Regions from separate parts of the Homo sapiens genome. Here region 2 is linked to region 1. The links come from fine-mapping of genetic effects on gene expression. Tissue or cell type: left ventricle. Region 1 holds a variant in brackets; the other region holds the start of a gene. All regions are shown on one strand. Distances are between the middles of the regions.

Region 1 (10,651 bases):
TCAACAATATTCAGTTAAGTCCAAACGTATTTACAATCAGGGGCAGATATTGACCCCTTCCTCTTGTCATCTAGACAGAGTTGTAGGTAAACATTTGCATATTAAAAATAAATTTTATTTTATTAATGACGTTTTAAATTTCTCCCTCCTAGTTAGCACTTTAGAACTGATTTCTTTCTTTTTCTCATTAACAAGTTTATTTTGGCATCATTATTCTAACATCTATTGTACCAGGATAAAACTATATCAAAGTATAACTGTACTGAGTGATATTTTTACTATGAAGAATAAAACATAATATAAAGGCAGTTTCCTGTGCGGGCAAACTCATTTTGAAGTTATTTTAATGAATGACATACTCTTACATCCTCCTAATTTGCAAATGAAACAAGTAACTTATTTCTTTCTTATTTATTTATTTTGAGACAGGGTCTCATTCTGTTGCCCGGGCTAGAGTGCAGTGGTGCAATCTCGGCTCACTGCAGCCTCAACCTCCCGGGCTCAAGTGATCATCCCACCTCAGTCTCCCATGTAACTGGAAGCACAGATGTGTGCCACCATGCCTGGCTAATTTTTGTATATTTTATAGACATGGGGTTTCACCATGTTGCCCAGGCTATTCTCAAACTCCTGGGATCAAGTGATCCACCCACCTCAGCCTCCCAAAGTGCTGAGATTACAGGTGTGAGCCAACACGCCTGGCTGATTTCTTTTTTAAAGTACGTGAATGACTAGGTTATTTTATCTTTGGAAATTTTTTCTGGATAGTTAAGAAGGCGTTATTCAGTGTTCACTTTTTTAAAGAAATGGAGTGTTGCTATGTTGCCCACGCTGATCTTGAACTCCTGAGTTCAAGGGATCCTCCTACCTCAGTCTCCTGAGTAGCTGGGATTACAGAGGCACATTTTCCACATTTTTAAAGTAAAGAGGGCATGTGTTCAATAGGGTCAAGAACCACAGAGGGACACAATGCTTCAAGACAAACATGGGGCCGAGCACGGTGGCTCACATCTGTAATCCCAGCATTTTGGGAGGCTGAGGCCGGGGATCACTTGAGGCCAGGAGCTCAAGACTAGCCTGGCCAACATGGTGAAGCCCTGTCTCTACTGAAAATGCAAAAATTAGCCAGGTGGAGTGGCGGGTGCCTGTAGTCCCAGCTACTTGGGAGTCTGAGGCAGGAGAATTGCTTGAACCTGGGAGGTGGAGGTTGCAGTGAGCCAAGAACTTGCCACTGCACTCCAGCCTGAGGGACAGAGTGAGACTCTATCTCAAAACAAAACAAAACAAAACAAAAAAGACAAACATGGCACATATTCCTGGAGTGTTAATTACCCTTAGAGATTGGAAAAAAAATTAAGAGTAAACAAATACTATTTTTATATCACAATCAATGCCAAATATGAGAGGGTAAAATGCAAATTTCACGTGCATTTTCAACCTGCTCTGTGAGGTCTGGTCAGGCCTCTTTCTGCAATACCCTTCCCAGAGCTCCAAGGGTGAGTTCACCTTCCTGTCCCCCAGGGAACACTTCAGGGGGCAAGTATGAAACATACTGATTTTTTGCTTTAAGATATTAAACTGAATTAAAGGAGATGAGTGAGGAAATTTGGAAGCCTACCAAATGATTTCGAGTCTTTTAGAAAATGACTTTATGTGGCAGAGAGAATATTTTAAATAATTTTGCATCACCTCACAAGAAAGTTATTTTTTTCATTTCAGTCTTCATTTTTATGATTATGTCAAAGAGTCCGTGAGGTGCCAGTCTGTCTTTAACACCTATTTATCTATTTGTATTTATTTATTTTTTTTTTGAAATAGAGTCTCGCTCAGTCACCCAGGCTGGAGTGCAGTGGCACGATCTCAGCTCACTGCAACCTCCGCCTCCTGGGTTCAAGCGATTCTCCTGCCTCAGCCTCTGAGTAGCTGGTATTACAGGTTTGCACCACCATGGCCAGCTAATTTTTGTACTTTTGGTAGAGTAAGTGTTTTGCCATGTTGACCAGGGTTTCGCCATGTTGCCCAGGCTGGTCTCGAACTCCTGGACTCAAACAATCCACCCACCTCAGCCTCCTAAAGTGCTAGGATTACAGGCATGAGCCACCACACCCAGCCAACACATTTTAAAAAATAGCTACTCTCCTCTCTATTTAACACAGAAGGCACTGGGACAACCACAACCACTAAGAATTTAATAACATTGCTTTGTTTGTGTTGCATTTATTTTTGCAGTCACTTCCTACTTAAGGCAATTGTTATTGATCTTCCAATTAAGACTGTATAGTTTCACTTTCCAAAAATATATTACAATTTTTTTATTAGCCCCATGTTACAAGTGATCGATTTTTAAAAAGCAATTTGATATAAAGAAAGTTATTCAGGTCCGGGCAAGGTGGCTCATGCCTGTAATCCCAGCACTTTGAGAGCTCGAGGCAAAAGGATCACTTGAGGCTGGGAGTTTGAGACCAATCTGGGCAACATAGCGAGACCCTTGGTCTACAAAAATTAAATCAAAAAAAAGAAAGAAAGAAGAAAGATATTAAGTACATAAGATAATAGGTGGCACAGGATTTACTAAAGTCTAGGAAGTGATGATAATAATAAAGCAACATTTTTGCACTCCTAAATCCATGACTGTAACATCGGTACTGGCCATACAGACATTTAATCCCTTTCTTTTGGCTTAAGCTAACTTAATAGGGACTTTCTTCCTTGGAATCCAAGGAGTCTTGAATCAAACAGAAGACTTAATTGGCATCAGCGGGAGAAAAGAAGGCACCGAGACAAGTGCATGGGAGTTAACCCTCCTTCAAGGTCTGCTGGGAGCCGTATTATCTGTCCTGTTTGATCACAACAGGTTGCAGCTGGCTCTGCATTTGTCTGTTGATGCCAGGGCTTTCCAGCTGCCCCAAAATGAGGGCTCAGCAACCCTGTGTAAGGCCTGTCATGGATATTACAAAAGCAGGGGGTACTGCCAGCAAGCCCCACCCAATAGCTTGTTTGGGACTCCGCAGACATGTCTCACGGGCCTTTGGGCTTTTCATTAACTATGACTGTCATTCCGTCTAATATCTGTTCTGCCCTCTATAGATTGATAGCTCCTTCCTTCCTTCTTTCCTCCTTCCCTCTCTCCCTTCTTTTTACATTTATTGAGCATCCCCTTTATATAAGGCTCCAGGGTAGATGCATAGACATTATGCATTCATTAATTTGCTCATTCAATAAGCATGTATTGAGCACCTGCTGTATACCAGACACTGACATATTTTCTTCACCCATTCATTCATTTATTCAATAAACACATGTTGAACACATGCTGTGTAGCCAGCATTAAAGATACTGATATATATTATTCATCCATTCATGCATAAAATATGCATATATTGAACACCTGCTGTTTGCTAGGCCCTGGGCTACCGTAAGGAACATGACAGCCAGAGTCTCTGACTTCATGGAACTTTCATTTGCATTTCATTAACCACTGTCACAACATTACACTGGGTCCTCACAGCAGCCCTGTGAACAAAGGTTGTTATTTTCATGTCTACTTTACAAATTAGCATAGCAAGGGCCCAAGTAGTTGAGCAATTTGCTGAAGATCCGTAAGTGGTGCCAAAGTTGGAGCCAGAACTTCCAACCTTGAATGAGCCACTCCCTTCCTCTAGAGCCTTTGATGGCTCCCTGTGACCTCTGACAGAAAACATAAATGCACAATGCACATGTAACACAGCAAGGATGGGGGCCTGGTGGAATTACAGGGAACTTTCCCTGTCGTGTCAGCCTCTGTTCAACTCTAGCCAAAAGATACCATGACAAAATGTGGGTTCCAGGCCTCCAGATTACCTGATTTTCCAAAAAACACATAACTTTATTTTTATGCAAGATGTCATTTTTGAAATGGAGGCAACTGATTCAAAATCCTATAAAACATTGTGCAGGATAAATAAAACACATCGGGGGCCATATTTGGCCTATGGGTTACCAGTTTGCAACTTGTAGCCTAGAAAGCCTGGTGCTCGTGGGCCAAATGTGGCCTGTGGTATTCTCTAACACGTTCAACCGAAGGACAGTATTTACAGGTCGAGGAGGCCCAAGGATCATCAGAGGGAGTCCGAGCGCCTGCCAGGCACCTTCACTTCCTTCTTAAAGATAAGATAGACCTAATAGCTTTTGAACTAGATAGTGACCGCTCCATACCATATTCTAAGTGTATTATACACTTTTTCCCTCTCTCCCTTCCTTCCTTCCTTCTTTCCTTCTTTCCTCCCTCCCTCCATTCCCTCCCCCCACTTCCCTCCCTCCCTTCCTTCCTTTCCTTTCCTTCTTTAGAGATGACATCTTGCTCTGTCACCCAGGCTGGAGTGCAGTGGCTCAGTCACAGCTCACTGCATCCTTGAATTCCTGGGCTCAAGCGATCCTCTCACTTCAGCCCCCAAGTAGCCTGGACCACAGTCACATGCCATCATGCCTGGCTACATTTTCTTATTTAATCCCCCCATTAAAGTGCCTATTATGGAGTCTATTTTGCAGATGGGGAAACTGAAGCTCAGAGAGGTGAAGCATCTTGCCCAAGCTCACCTCAGTCAACAGGGGTGCACTGTGATATAAACCTGGATGCGTTTATCTCCATGTCTTCAAGACCACACACCTACAGTTTCCTTCACGTTTCCATGGCTGCCACAAACTCCCAGGTGGTAGAAACTTCTGTAGGAACCAAAGTGGCTCACTGAGTCCTAACCCCGTATGTGAATGCCCCACAATATCATGCGGTGAACGCCCCGGCAGGAATCTTATAGCTGGGCCAGGGCAGATCAAGGAGGTTCTCGGTGGTTGCCAAGGCTTGCCAGCTGCCTGGCTTGCACAGTGTTCCTGGGGGAATTTTGGGGAAGCTTTATAATTAGAGTCTGATCTGTCCTTCCTGAGGTTGGGCCAGAATTCCATGCTGGGGAGGAGGAAGCTCTGCAATCTGGGGACACTTTCTCTTTCCCTCTGGTCAGGCCGGTTTCATGTTGGGTATGGAATTTATCAAGCTGTTTGGAAGAACTGGCGGGACACCATATGGGCAGCCTTCCTGGGCTTCATCTATTTGGGATGAATGAATGTTCAACTAATCAACTAAATTCTGAGGGATAATTCAGTTATGTCTCCCAGCGGCCAAGGTCAGGGTTAAGGATGTGGACCCTGGAGCCAGGTGTGCCTGTATTTCAATGCTGGCATTGCCATTTACGGACACCACAAGCTTGGCAGTGGTATAATAATAGACATTTATGTCATTTTCTCTGTGCCAAGAGTTTTATGTACAAGGGCCATTTACTCCTCATAACAGCACCATGGGAGAGACTATTATTATCCCACCTACAGAT[G/A]AGAAAACTGAGACACAGAGAAGTTGAATAGCTTGTCTTTAATTAGAGGAGCTGGGATTTGAACCCAAGCAGTCTGGCCTCAAAACCCATGCTTTTCACAATGACACTGCATTATTTCACTTGTCCAAATGAGCTTCTTAGGTAAATATTGAAATGAGGGCTGAGGCCAGGCATGGTGGCTCACACCTATAATCCCAGCACTTTGGGAGGCCGATGTGGGCAGATCACGAGGTCAGGAGATCGAGACCATCCTGGCTAACACGGTGAAACCCCGTCTCTACTAAAATTATAAAAATTAGCCTGGCCTGGTGGCACGTGCCTGTAGTCCCAGCTACTTGGGAGGCTGAAGCAGGAGAATCGCTTGAACCTGGGAGGCAGAGCTTGCAGTGAGCCAAGATCTCACCACTGCACTCCAGCCTGGGTGACAAAGCGCGACTTTGTCTCAATTAAAAAAAAAGGAAAAAAAGAAAGAAAGAAAGAAATGAGGGCTGAGCAGGCCCAGGAGATGAAGAAAGAACATGAAGAGCGGATGCCACATCACTGCAACTTGGCGATATTGTTTGCACATGTTTTCTAGAGCCTGGTTTCTCAACCTCAGCACCGCCAACATCTTGGACTGGGTCATTCTTTGTGGTGGGGGCTGTCCCATGCACTGTGGGCTATGAAGCAGAATCCTTGGCCCCTATGCACTGGATGCCAGTAGCACACCCCTCCCCCAACGTGTGACAATCAAAAATGTCTCTAGACATTGCCAAGTGCCCCTAGCCCTGAACTGAGAACTACTATTTTGGAAGGTGCCAAAATATGGTTACAACCTTCAAGATTCAGTAAATGGCATTTCTGAAAACCCCTCTGTAAATCTCTTTAAAATCTCCTCTGAGGCCCTTCACAAACATGAAGATGTCTATATGGGAACGCCAAGTGAATTACTGCCCCTAGTGGCAGAGTAAATATACTCTTCCAAGGGAAGTTGGGATCCTACATGAATGACCATTGTGCATTGTGGACTTTCCAGGTCAACAAAGAACACTCATCAGGCAGTTGCTGCTCTGGAGAGGATAAGGCAGTTGCTGCTCTAGAGAGGATAAGAAAGTAGCAGAGAGTGGAAACAAGGAGGTCTGGTTCTCATCCACCACAGCTCAGTCACTCAAGAAGTATTTATTGAGTGTGCACTCTCAACCAGGGAGGTCAGGCTCTGGGGCCAACTCAGTGAACAAAACAAATGCAGCCCCTTTCCTCACGGAGTTTACTAAATTCCCTCCACACTCTTCAGTCTTGTGCCTGTGGCAGACAACACTAGTCAATCACAGCACTATCCCACTGAGCCTTCTGACTCCTCAAATCCATGTTTCTGGCATCCTCTAATAAATGATTAGAACAGACACAGAGACAAAACCCACCTGCCCTTTCATTTTGGGGATTCAATGAATGGTAGCTATGAATATCTGTGTTTTCTAATTCAGCCTCCTCTGATATAAATAAGGAAATTTCAGCCCTAGATGGGGAGTGGCTTGCTTTAGCCATGCAGTGTCAGATTCAAGCCCAAAGTTAAGGTATTTTTACTCATTTTCTGTTATATTCCTCACTGCCTTATGATTCAGCAATTGGATAGCAGAATTTGGGGTTCAGCAAATTTCCTCATTATGGATTCCTGAAGTGTGTGTGTGTGTGTGTGTGCATGTTTGTCTTTTGTGTGTGTGTGTGTGTGTGTGTTTGTGCATGTTTGTCTCAGGAACAAATAAATGAATTTTTTTTTCCAGACAGAGTCTCGCTCTGTTGCCCAGGCTGGAGTGTAGTGGCATGATCTCGGCTCACTGCAGCCTCCCCATCCTGGGTTCAAGCAATTCTCCTGCCTCAGCCTCCTGAGTACCTGGCACTACAGGTGCATGCCACTGGGCCTGGCTAAGTTTTGTAGTTTTTGTAGAGATGGGGTTTCGCCATGTTGCCTAGGCTGGTCTCTAACTCCTGAGCTCAGGTGATCTGTCCTCCCAAAGTGCTGGGATTACAGGCATGAGCCACCACTCCTGGCCTCCTTTGATTATTTTAAAGGCTTAAAGATTAACATTGGATTCAGCCTCAGACAGCCACAGCTTTACAGTTCTTTTAACGGCTGCTCAGCTCCATCAAAACAAAAATGACTCTGTTTTATTTTCAGAGGTGTTTTTTCTTCTCTCCTTCCTTCCCTCCTCCTTCCCTCCCTCCTTTCTTCCTTTTTTCTTCCTTCTCCCCCTTCCTCACTCTCTCTCCCTACCTCCTTCCTTTCTTCCTCCCCCCTCCCTTCCTACCTCGCTCTCTTTCTCCTTTCTTCTTTCCCCCTTTCCTTTTCTTTCTTTTTTTTTTTTCTGAGACAAATTTTCACTCTTGTTGCCCAGGCTGGAGTGCAATGGCACGATCTCGGCTCCTGAGTAGCTTACAGGCATGCGCCACCATGCCTGGCTAATTTTGTATTTTCAGTAGAGATGGGGTTTCACCATGTTGGTCAGGCTGGTCTCGAACTTCTGACCTCAGGTCATCCTCCCACCTCGGCCTCCCAAAGTGCTGGGATTACAGGCATGAGCCACCGCGTTCATGCCCTCTTTAGTTCCTTCCTTTTTTTCTTCCTTCCCTCCCTCTGTCCCTTCTCCCTCCCTCCCTTCTTCTTTACTTCCCTCCTCCTTTTTTTTCCTTCCTTCCTTCCTTCCTCTCTCCTGTCCTTAAACTCTTGTTCATTCTTCCAAACAGAAAATCACCATGCCATCACTCATATGCTCCAGAAACAGGAAGTGGGTGGGAGAGCAGATGGGGGCAGAATCTAAGGAGCTGCCACTGAAGACCAGAGTAATTCCTTCTTGGGTTAACAGGGGGGTAATAACCAGCTTTTACTTCCTTTGGGAGCCCCAGAGAGGCCTTTCCAACTGCCATCTCCAGCCCCATCACCGGCCAAGACCCCGAGGCCCATCATGGCTGCATTTAGTTTCCAGCCTGCTGCCTCTGGAGTTACATTCTTGGCAATTATATTGATCACCATTTCTTGGCAGTTATATTGATCACCATCTTCCAGGTGTCTGCTGGCCCAAGTTTCCTGCGCAATAGCAGTGAGAGGGGATGCAGCTGGAGTCTGCATCCTCTATGGCATTGCTGGAACGTTCATTCATTCATTGAGCCATCACCTGCTTCTGGAGCACCTACTGATTCAAGCCACAGGCATCATAGTGAAGACAGAGCTCTAGACTTAGAATGAGCAAGACCTGATTCTGTGATGAGCAAACCATGTGGTCCTGGGTAAGTTGCCCACTCTCCGTGCCTCAGTTTCCTCTTCTATCAAGTTAGAGTGATAATAGCACCTACTTCAATGGTTATTAAGGGGATTGGATGAGCTAACGCATGAACCATACTTTGCATCATGCCTGCTATACAACGCGCTATTTTATTTTCAGCCCATGATTTGCTAGTTGTAGTGGAGATTGCCTGTTACCTACCCAGCATCCAGATCTCACTTCTTCCTTCCTAACAGAATTCTAGGTTTGTTGAGGTAGCCCATTCCCAGCTCCAGTAGTAGGTTATTCTTAGTCTAAGCCAATCGTTTTCAAAGTATGGTCCCAAGCATTGACATTGCATGGGGTCTTGTCAGAAATGCTACACTCGGAATTTCAGTTTACATGTGTCCTGTGCCTAGCATGTGCCTGGCATTGTACAAAGAGATTCACACAGTGGCTCACATCTGTAATCCCAGCACTTTGGGAGGCTGAGGTGGGAGGACTGCTTGAGGCCAGGAGTTTGAGACCAGCCTGGGCAACATAGTGAGACCCTGTCTGTCTACAAAAAATAAAAAAACAATTAGCTGGGCATGGTGGCACAAGTCTTGTCCCAGCTACTTGGGAGGCTCAGGTGGGAGGATTGCTTGAGCCCAGAAGGTCAAGGCTGCAGTTAGCTATGATTGCACCTTTGCACTCCAGCCTGGGCAACAGAGCAAGACCTTGTCTCAAAAAAACAAAAGAAACAGTGATTTACACCTCAATTAACCCTAATTCATCTCTATTAACCCTCCAATACAGGTTCTGTTATTTTCTTCTTTATACGTATTAGGAAATTGATAATCAAAGAGGTCAATTTGGCTGAGCACAGTGGCTCATGCCTGTAATCTCAGCACTTTGGGAGGCCATGGCCGGTGGATCACTTGAGGTCAGGAGTTTGAGACCAGCCTGGCCAACATGGTGAAACCCTGTCTGTACTAAAAATACAAAAATTAGCCAGGCTTGGTGGCAGGTGCCTGTAATCCCAGCTACTTGGGTGGCTGAGGCAGGAGAATCACTTGAACCCAGGAGGCCGAGGTTGCAGTGAGCCAAGATCGTGCGATTGCACTCCAGCCTGGGCGACAGAGCAAGACTCCGTCTCAAAAAAAAAAAAAAAAAAAAATGTCAGTTTGCTTGCCCAAGATCACACAGCCAGTAGTGGCAAAATTGACACTGAACCTGGGTCCACCTGATTTCAAGGCCCTGAGCTGTAAGTTCCCTCTTCCTTCTTGTTTGCAAATCCATTTCATATCATGTCTGAGCTCTCCCAAAAGCTGGCTCTAAGATAAGGATCCTAGTAAAGATAGTTTATTTGAGCAGTGATTCCAGTAGGGGAGTGGAGAAGTGAGACAGGGAAGGGAAGGAAGGTAATTCAGGGTGTCTTCATGAACAGGCTCCCACAGCAGACACTGGAGCTCAGTCCTGCTGGGATTGAGAAATGGCTTTCTGGGTGCAGTGGCTCATGTCTGTAATCCCAGCGCTGTGGGAAGGCCAAGGCAGGAGGATCGCTTGAGGCCAGGAATTTGAGACCAGCCTGGGCAATATGGTGAAATCCCATTTCTACAAAAAATACAAAAATGAGCTGGGTGTATTGGCGCATGCTTGTAGTCCCAGCTGCTTGGAGGGCTAAGGTGGGAGGATTGCTTGAGCCTGGGAGGTTGAGGCTACTGTGAGCTGAGACTGTGCCACTGCACTCCAGGAAGACCCTGTCTCAAACAAAAAGAAAAACAAAAAACCCAAAATTTGAGAAATGGCTCTCTTTAGGGCAAGAGAATCAATGGCTTTATCTAGTATCCCTTGACTGCCCCAGCCAGGGGTAATGAGGAAATGGTTCTGGTCCAGGGGATATGAATAGGCATTGATTGTCTAGATTCTGAAATGTATATGCGTGGGCCCCACTAGGAATCTGTGCTTTGAAGAGAGTCCACAGCAGCCTTACAGCAATGTCTTCTCACTGTACTTCAACATCATCCTTATTAGGCCTCCCAACTGCTAATGCAGAACGGGTTTGCTACTTGT
Region 2 (10,651 bases), 53 kb after region 1:
CCATACTCTTTTCCATGATGGCTACACTATTTTATATTTCACCAACAGTGTGCAAAAGTTCCAATTTCTCTACATCCTCACCAACATTTGTTATTTTCTGATTTTTTTGGTCTTTCTTTCTTTTTTGAGACAGGGTCTCATTCTATCACCCAGGCTGGAGTGTAGTGGCACATTCATAGCTCACTGCAGCCTCAAAACCCTGGGCTCAAGCAATCTTCCCTCCTCAGCCTCCTAAGTAGCTGGGACTACAGGCACACACCACCATGGCTGGCTAGTTTTTCAAAATTTTTGGTAGAGACGGGGTCTTGCTTTGTTGCCCAGGCTGGTCTCACAGCTCTTGGCTTCTAGCATTCCTCTCGCATTGGTCTCCCAAAGTGCTGAGATTATGGGCTTGAACCACCATGCCCAGCTCAGGTATTTTTTATTTTAATAGTAGCCATCCTGATGGGTATATGAGAGGGCTGCAAATTTAAAGAGAGTTATTAGGGTAAGCTTTGGTGAGAAGGTGGTATTTGAGACTTTATGAGAGTGAAGCAGGTACCTTGGAGAAGAGCTTTCTAGCGGGTGGATCCTGAGGCAGGAGCCTGGCTGGCATGGCTGAGGAACAGCAGGGAGGCAGCAGCATGAATGGGTAGGATAGTGAAAGAGATGAGGTGAGATGGGAACCATAGAAGATTTTTGAGCCAAGGAAGGACATGATCTGACTTTTAAAGAATCCCTCTGGCCACTGGGTTGAGAATGGGCTATAGGGAGGCAAGGGCAGGAGCGGGAAAACCAGCACAGACATCATTGCAATCAATCCCAGTGAGAGAGGATGGATACTTGAACCAGAGGATTGCAGCAGAAGGGGTGGGAGTCTGGGTGTTAAGTTGAAGGCAGGACCAAAGGATTTCTTGATGGACTGAAAGTGAAATGGGGCCAGGCATGGTGGCTCATGCCTGTAATCCCAGCATTTTGCGGGGCCAAGGCGGGAGGGTCACTTGGAGCCAGGTGACCAGCCTGGCCAACATGACAAAACCCCATCTCTATAAAAAATTAGCTGGGCATGGTGGTGCATGCCTGTTATCCCAGCTACAGGGGTGGCTATGATAATCGCTTGAACCTGGGAGGCAGAGGTTGCGGTGAGCTGAGATCACACCACTGCACTCCAGCCTGGGCAACAGAGCGAGACTCTGTCTCAACAAAACAAAACAAAACAAAAAAGTGAAATGGGAGGAAGAGGGGAGTCTAACTTGACTCCAAAGTTTCCGGCCAAATGGGACAAATGGAGTTGTTATCAACTGAGATGGGGGAGGCTGAAAGAGGAGCAGGTGGAGGACGGACGAAGAGTTCAAGTTCAGACATGTGCTCTCACACCACACCAGACATCTTCTTAGTGTTTTGCACAGGAGAATGTGGCTTCCAGGCGCTCCTACTACCTAATAAGTTGGAAGATCAGGGAAACGAATGCTGAGTGGAGGAAAACAATACCAGCACCACAAATCGAGACCATACTCAAAGCCAGGCACTGTGCTGAGAGCTTCCCAGCGATTATCTCTCTGATCCTTACAACAGCCCTGCAGGTATTATCACTGTTCTGACTTCACCGATAGGCACTCAGCCTTGGGGAGAAGAAGGCTTTGGCCCGAGGCCACCCAGATAGGGCCGGAGCCAGAGTTTGAACCCAGATCTGCCTGAGTCAGTTTCCACATTTTTACCTCTGCTATTGATTAAGACCGGCAGAAGTCAGGGGCAGATTTATTAAAATGGTGGACCCAAACTCAATCTTGAAAGACAGGGTTTGTAAGAAAGGAGACAGTAGATTCAGCAAATGCAGGATGATGTCCCAACTCCTTGTCATATACTACAAGACCCTGGATGGCCTACTCCCTGTTATCCTCAGCAGTTTCCCCTCAAGCCACTTGTTCATTAATGATCTTTTGGCTGATTTTGAGACACACCAAGCTTTTTTCCCAATTCAGGGCTTTTACCCATACAGTTTCTTCTTCCTGGAATGTTCTTAATCCTCTCTCTTTTTCCTGAAATCATATCTCCAGAGGATCAGGTCAAATGTCACTTCCTCAGGGAAGCCTTCCCTGATACCCACCTCCCATCTAAAACTAGTTTCCTTACCTGTACCCTGCATTAGTTCTTTTTTTTTTTTTTTTGAGACAGGATCTCACTCTGTCACTCAGGCTGGAGTGCAGTGTCATGATCATGGCTCATTGCAGCCTTGAACCCCCAGGCTCAAGCAATCCTCCTGCCTCAGCCTCCCTAGTAGTTGGGGCCACAGGCATGAGCCACCAGACCTGGCTAATTAAGAAAAAAATTTTTTTAGTAGTAACAGGTCTCAATATATTCCCCAGGCTTGCAGTAGTTCTTGATAGCACTTAAGACAATTCTCATAATTATTTGCAATGATGTGTTCAGTGTCCTCCCTCCTACCAAACCAGTGCTGTCCAATAGAACTTTCTGCAATTATGGAAATGTCCTAGACCAGGGGTCCCCAATCCCTGGGCCAAGGACCCGTAACGGTCTCTGGCCTGTTAGGAACCGGGCTGCACAGTGAGCCTTGGGTGAGTGAGCATTACCGCCCAAGCTCCACCTCCTGTCAATCAGCAGCGGCATTAGATTCTCATAGGAGCGTGAACCCTATTGTGAACTGACACACAAGGGGTCTAAGTTGCAGGCTCCTTATGAGAATCTAATGCCTGAAGATCTGAGGTGGAATGGTTTTATCCTGAAACCCCAACCCCATCCCCCTACCTAACCACCCCCATCCATGGAAAAATTGTCTTCCAAGAAACCAGTCCCTGGAGCCAAAAAAGTTGGGGACTGCTGGCCTACACGTATGCTGTCCAATATAGTAGCCACTAGCCACATGTAGCTATTGAGTATTTGAAATGTGGTTAGTATGACTGAGGGACAGATTTTTTTAAAATTTTACATTATATATATACACACACATTTTTTTTGAGACAGAGTCTCACTGTGTTGCCCAGGCTGGAGTGCAGTGGCACAATCTTTGCTCACCGCAACCTCTGCCTCCCAGGTTCAAGAGATTCTCCTGCCTCAGCCTCCCAAGTAGCTGGGATGTGCCACCATGCCTGACTAATTTTTTTTGTATTTTTAGTAGAGACAGTGTTTCACCATGTTGGTCAGGCTTGTCTCGAACTGCTGACCTCAAATGATCCACCCACCTCGGTCTCCCAAAGTGCTGGGATTATAGGCATGACCCACTGCACCTGGCCACATATTTTCTATTGTATATTATATATACATTTTATATTCTTTATTATACTATATAAATTATTTCATGTACAAAATGCATACTTTAAATTCATTTAAGTTTAAATTTAAATAGCCACATGTAGCTAGTGGCTAAATGTACTATTGGACATTGCAGCTCTAGATTGCGAGGTGCTTAAGCGCAAGAACCATTCTACCTTACTCAGCTGTAGAATCCTTTGTACCTAGGATGGTATCTAAGTAAATCAGTGAAAGAATGGATGGATGAATGAATGAATGAATGAATGAATGAATCGATCAATCAGTGTCTGCAAACTTGCTTTCAAGAAATCATCCTAGAAAGAACAGACCTAGAAAAGTCTGATTTGCACAAGGTCACACAAAAAGGCAGAACTGGATGCAAACTCTCAGCCTCCCAAATCTCCTCTATGTGGTGCTGTCCCAGAGTGGACAGCATGTGAAAAACAATGGTCTTTTGTGGTCTCAAATGAACCACCCCAGAGCTGTGTGAGGGTTCCTTCAAGTGTGAGGAAGGACTGTTTCTTAGACTCCCTCACTCCCTTTCCCCATTCCCCAACCATGTGAACTACTTAGTGGCTTATAATCTGCTAACACTTGGCCTCCCACGGGACTGAGCCTATTCCAAAGTCCACTCTTGCCAACCCTCTACAAGGCACTCTGAATTTTTTTTTAGCCATATTGCTCTCGGGAAATCTGCTGCCTGCAATCTGTGCATAATATACGAAGGGTGTGGTTTAAAAAACATCTAAATCGTGATTTGTAACCCACTCAGATTCATGTGGCCATTCCTTTTAGCTTACTCTTTTTTTAGAAATTGAGGTCAACACATTTCAGGGCTAATTTTGACTTCATTCAAATGTCATTTGGGGTTTGCAGATTAAGATTTTGAGGGAGTCCAGTACAGTAAACCTACATATTTTGTTTATATAAATGATTTTTCAGATGTAATAATAGTAATAGCTAATATGCATTGAGTGCTTTGTGTCTGCCCGGCATTTGGCATACATTATCTCATTTGATCTTCACAATAACCTTATGAATTAAGTACTGTTATGATCCTCATTGTGTAGCTAAGGAAACTGAGTCTCAGAAAGGTTAAGTCACTTGCTTAAAGTCACACAGCCAGGAAGTGGCATAGTAAGGATTTGAACCCAAGTATGTCTGATTCAAGAGATAATGTACTTAACCAGTACACAATTTGGCCTAATAGATAATATATGTATTTATGCCTATTAAGCACCAGAAAGAATAATCAAGAAACTTAACTCTGGGGAATAGAACTGGGGTTTGAAAAGAAAGGAGACTTACTCTTTATTCTTGTGCTTCTCTTTGAACTTTATTTACCTTTATTTATTGGTACATTGTATTATATTCCTATAAAAACCTAAATTTTTACATTTAAATAAGTGAAAACTTCTTATTTTTGCTTTTTTTAATTAAAGAAGGAATTGTCATGATAATGTCAGGTCTATATATTAGTAGATTAAATATACATGACCCTTTTGCAAAGTTCATATACACATGAATCTTTGAAAAGTTCACATCCTCTGACATTATTGAAAAATTTATCCCAGGAAAACCACAGTTCCAATATGTAGTCTAATTCTGAGTACCAAAGTTCACATTTCTGATATTAAATTATTTTTTATTGGGGGTAATCATTTTATTTTTGAACATGATATTTATTCTCAATAAAAGTTGTATGTTTTCCTTGGGAAATTTGTAATCAGACCTTTACATTTTTATGTACTGTTATATCTACGTCTGGATATTATTACTGAACATCCTCTAGCATTTGTGAAATAATGCTGTATTACATAATCAGATATACTATTTGTGGATCAATTAGTAAAACTTTAAAGCAAATTTTAAATTAATTAAAAATTTTGGTGAAAACTAATTTTACTCTGATTGAAAAGTAAACATTACAATCCCCTTCAGTACTCACAGCCTCAGAGAACTGTATCAGTCACACTAAAAGTCACTTGGGAGAATTCCTCAGTAGATTATAGAAAAAAATAATCCACCATTTTTAAAATCAAGAAAATACACACACACTAACTATAATTTATCCTTTCTAACAATCCCAAAGGGAATCTACTCTTACCACTCAAATGGCTAGTGCTTCTAAAAATTAAAACAACCCCTGCCCCACCAATGTTCTTTTTAATGCCCCCTCTCATACTCTTGGAATTTACTTAACAAATCACTATCTGCTTGTGGTAGGAAAAATCTGTAAGCCCCTCTACAAGGCCCCTGTCCTTTCGGTTGCTTGATATTTCCCCCAGATTCTCAGAGCAAATTTGGTTTTTCTTAAAAATCGCCATCCTCAAAGCAGTATATTCCTGATGTTCCGACAGTGAGTCTCACTCTAGCTAGCTGCTACAAAAACCTTTCATTCAGAAGAAGGCAAGAGGTTTCACCGACCGTGCACAGCCCTCTCATTCACACACTTCATAAACAACAGGACTTTGCCCAACCCTCTCCTCTAGGAAGGCATCCCAGTTTTTTTTATCAACCAGTTTGCAGCATCAGTATCATTCCCTTCCAAAAGACCTTGCAGAAAAATTATGGATTTCACAGCATAGGATTAGGGCTGGAAAGGACCGATGTCATTGCATAGACTCACCAATTCTGTCCACATTTCAAAACAGCAGCTAATGCTTTCTTAAAGCTCACATCTGAAAATCCTTTTAGGATTGAGAGCAATTAAAAGGGGAATCATAACCCCCGTGGTTCCCCCATAAGGTCCTGACAGATCTGATAAATGGAACTGAGTCAGAGATACAGAGGCTGGGCTGCTGGGGAAAGAAAATGGCTTGTCTCCTCCAGGCCCTAATTCCTTCCTCTGAAACAGTTCCCTTTAAATTCAAGAAACCATGCAGAGATGTACCCCCCCCCACCCCCCTTGCAGGTTTTCGTTTTTTAAAAGAAAGCCTGTCTGCCTCTTGCTCGCCCCCATGATACTCACGGCAGCTGCCTTAGCTGGAATAAGTCCTCCTCCATGTCCGCGCTGCGCCAGGATGAGCCCTTCTCATGGCCCTTACATGGTAGTGGTGGATGACGAGCCCTCCGGTTTTCAGCACCGGGAAGCTGGACAGCACCCGCGCCGCTTCCTCCCTGGAGCAGCAGCTGTTCGGGGAGGGAGCCGCTGGGGACCAGCCCACGAGACAAAGCCTCCGCCGCCAGGAGACCGCGGCGAGAGTGGGCGGAGAAGAGGAGGCGGAGGGCAGAGCGAGCTGCGCGGGGAGAGGGGGCAGGGAGAGCCCTTCTGCTTGGAAGAGTTCACAGGCTCTCTGGCTGATGGTGTATCACTGGGATGCCTATAGGGCACACCAGTCTGTGAAATGGTTGTCCGGGTACCAGTGAGCACCCTTTGATTGACGATGCGTGTCTAAATGTTTATTTGCGTGGATTCATTAATGTTATCCGTATAACACTCTTGAAACCCAGGCTGCTGTAACAAATACAGGCATGCATTTAAGTACGGTTTACTGAGCACCTATGTGCCAGGCACTGTAATAGGCACTGGGGGTATGACAGAACAAATTCGACCTGTCATTGTCATCGTGGAGCTAAGGGTCTAGTGAAATGAATCAAGAAAAGAAAAATGTAAATTAGGTATGAGAAGGCCAAAGATCACTCATTCTTTCAACAAGCGTTATTGGGTGAATTCTACAGCCCTGACCCTGGGGAATAAAAACATGAGTAAAATAAAGTCTCTGCCTTCAAGATCCTAGATAGTTTAATGGTTCCCCTAAGCCACCTCTCACTAGAATTTCTGACCCCTTTAGAACTTAAGCTCCATGAGGTTTCACTGATGTGTCCCAAGTACTAGAACAGTGTCTGGCACATAGAAGGTACCCCATAAATATTTGTTGAATAAATGGTTCTCAGTTCAGGCTGCATATAAGAATTGCCTGGCTCCATTTCAAACCAATTGAACTCAACTCTCGGGAGGTGGAGGCCAAGCCTGGGTATTTTTTATTTTTTCAATATTTATTTATTTATTTTTGAGACAAGTTCTTGCTCTGTTGCCCAGGCTGGAGTTGCAGTGGCATGATCATGGCTCATTACAGCCCCAACCACCTGGGCTAAAGCAATCCTCCCACCTCAACCTCCCTAGTAGCTGGGATCACAGGCTCATCCCAGCATACCCAGCTAATTTATTTATTGTAGAGATGGGGTCTTGCTTTGTTGCCCAGGCTGATCTAGAACTCCTGGCCTCAAGCAATCCTCCCATCTCGGCCTCCCAAAATGCTGGGATTATAGATGTGAGCCATTGCGCCCGGCCTCAGGGTATTTTTTAAAAGCTCCCCAGCACCATGAAGTGGAAACCCCTGATCAAGTGTGAACAAATGAAAAGAAAAGCTGGAAAATTATACAACAGAAAACTACTAAGATGATCCATGATGGCAACTGGCAAAAGCTATGAGAATGACCGTTGAATGGACACTTACAAGGAACTAAAGGAAGAAGGAAACATTTTTTTCTTTTTTTCTTTAATTGTTGACAAAGGGTGGGGGAAGTTGGAAGAGGGAACAAGAAAACCAATCTGAGAACTGAAAACAATCTCACATCGAATCCATAAAAGGACTTGAAAATCCAAAATTGAATGTGTGCCAGGCACCCGGATATGTACTTCACCATGGTCCCCTTGATCTTTGCAACAATCCTATGAGCAGGTGTGATTTTTATCCTTATTTTGTAAGATGAGGAAACAAGGCTCAGAGAAGGGTAGATTTGCTTGCACAAGGTCATGAGGACAGGAAAGAGTTGATCTGGACTTAAAACCCCGGCAGTCTATCTCCACAACCTGCGCCCTTAAATGCTAGGCTTTCTCTGAGTGTCTCAAAAGAAACCATCCATTGCGGGTATAGTAGGAGAAATTGGAACTATTGAAACATTGGATAACTTTAAACAAATCTAATGTTGGGAAAACCAATTATACAGTGGTACTCAAGCTCCAATGTATTATTTATCTAGTAAATATTAATGAGCAACAACTATGTGTCTGTCACAATGATAGTTTGAACTTATTCATGGCTCCTTCTCACCTCATACTGGAGTCAATCACAAGTTGTCCCACCCACACTTATTTCTAAAGGAATCTCTCCCCCATCCCTGCTGTGCACTACATTTGGTATCACATGATTCCTGGCCACAGCTGATTGGCTAAGAGGGTGGACACTTATCTAAAGACATCCAATCCAAACACTTGTCAGTATCCCCATTGTTGCATAGCTGGGAAAGGGAGCTGGACAACCTGGTACCTTTTCGATTATGGATTCAAATGTCTCTGAAGGTTTTTGCTTTAATTACCCCTTTTCCCTCAATCCTGGTGTCAGGTGGGGCTCTCTAGGGCTCTATGAATATTCATTATGCTCACTCTAAACAGCCCTCTTAGGGGTCGGGTACCATGGCTCACGCCTATAATCCCAGCACTCTGGGAGGCCGAGGCGGATGGATCACTTGAGGTCAGGAGTTCCAGACCAGCCTGGCCAACATGGCAAAACCTCGTCTCCACTTGAAAATAAAAAAACTTAGCCAGGTGTGGTGGCACAGACCTGTAGTCCCAGCTACTCGAGAGGCTGAGGCAGGAAAATCGCTTGAAGCCAGGAAGCAGAGGTTGCAATGAGCTGAGATCGCGCCACTGCACTCCAGCCTGGGTGATAGAGCGAAACTCTGTCTCAATAAATAAATAAATAAATAAATAGCCCCCTTATCATCCCATTTCAGCTTCTACTCATGTGCCTTAATCAGGACTTTTTTTTTTTTTTTTTTTTTTTGAGACAGAGTCTCTCTCTGTCACCCAGGCTGGAGTGCAATGGCGCAATCTCGGCTCACTGCTACCTCCACCTCCCGGATTCAAGCAATTCTCTGCCTCGGCCTCCCAAGTACCTGGGATTACAGGTGCCCGCCACCATGCCTGGCTAATTTTTTTGTATTTCTAGTAGAGACGGGGTTTCACCATCTTGGCCAGGCTGGTCTTGAACTCCTGACCTTGTGATCCACCTGCCTCGGCCTCCCAAAGTGCTGGGATTACAGGTGTGATCACCACCGCGACTGGCCAATCAGTATTTTTTGATGTTCAACAGAGACCAAGTCAAGTTCCTTCAAAGGAAAAAGGGAGTTTGCAGCCTGGAACTGGAGAGTGGTTAAAGCAGGCTCAGTCCTGGGGACTCTCTTCCCAGCTCCACCTCTTCCTGGGTGGGTAACCTCGAGCAGGTTGTCTAACTTTCCGTGCTTGCATTTCCTCATCAGAAATACGGGGATCAATAACCATAACTACTTCATAGGGTGGTGGTCAGAATCAAAGATAAAATGGAGGTGAAGGACCACACACTTGGATGGCACATAATAAGTGTTAGCTGTTGCAATGGTTAAATTAATTTATTTTAATTTTATTTTTTGAGACAAGATCTGGCTCTATCATCCAGGCTGGAGTGTGGTGGTGTGATCTCAGCTCATTGCCACCTCCACCTTTCAGGCTCAAGCCATCCTCCCACCTCAGCCTCCCGAATAGCTGGGATTACAGGTGTGCGCCACCATGCCAGGCTAATTTTTGTATTTTTTATAGAGAGGGGGTATCATCATGTTGCCCAGGCTGGCCTCAAACTCGTGAGCTCAAGCAATCAACCTGCCTCGGCCTCCCAAAGTGCTGGGATTGCAGGCTTGAGCCACCGTGCCCGGCCACAATGATTAATTTTAAGTATCAACTTGGTGGGTTTAAGGAATACCTAGAGAACTGGTAAAGCAGCATTTTTTTTTTCCCGAGACCGAGTCTCGCTCTGTCTCCCAGGCTGGAGTGCAGTGGCGCGATCTCAGCTCACTGCAAGCTCTGCTTCCCAGGTTCATGCCATTCTCCTGCCTCAGCCTCCTGAGTAGCTGGGACTACAGGCGCCCACCACCACCCTGGGCTAATTTTTTGTATTTTTAGTATTGACAGGATTTCACCATGTTAGCCAGGATGGTCTCGATCTCCTGATCTCGTGATCCACCTGCCTTGGCCCCCCAAAGTGCTGGGATTACAGGCGTGAACCACCACACCAGCCTAAAGCAGCATTTTTTGGTGTGTCTGTAAGGGTGTTTCAAGAGGAGATTGCTGTGTGAGTCTGAGTGGACAAAGTTCAGGAAGATCTGCCCTCGATGTGTGAATGAGCACCATCAAATCAGCTAGAGGCCCAGACAGAACAGAAACAGAGGAAAGGTGAGTTGATCTCTTTCTCCAGGAGCTGTTTCTTCTCCTGCCCTTGGACATCAGAACTGCAGGCTCTTTAGTCTTTAGAAACCAAGACTTACATGTGTGGCCCCCTTGGGTTTTTGGGCCCTTGAATTTGGCCCAGCATCCCAGGGTTTCTAGCTTGCAAATGGTCTGTTATGGAAATTCTCAGCCTCCCTA

The links. PIP is the estimated chance that this variant, and not a neighbour inherited with it, causes the effect.
Region 2: SVOP starts here. The variant in region 1 is fine-mapped to the expression of SVOP in left ventricle (GTEx, PIP above 0.99).

What each region holds. Positions count from the first base shown.
Region 1 is chr12:108,961,695-108,972,345 of GRCh38, forward strand. The region is part of intron 5 of SVOP (SV2 related protein); the gene reads right to left. Among named protein-coding and RNA genes, the nearest start is that of SVOP, 54 kb to the right of the region's middle. The variant G/A (reference allele first, on the strand shown) is at 5,361.
Region 2 is chr12:109,014,614-109,025,264 of GRCh38, forward strand. It overlaps SVOP (SV2 related protein), which reads right to left and starts at 6,455. Exons shown (of 16, transcript NM_018711.5): 1 at 6,221-6,455. The coding sequence starts at 6,255. It also overlaps a transcript of USP30 not described here.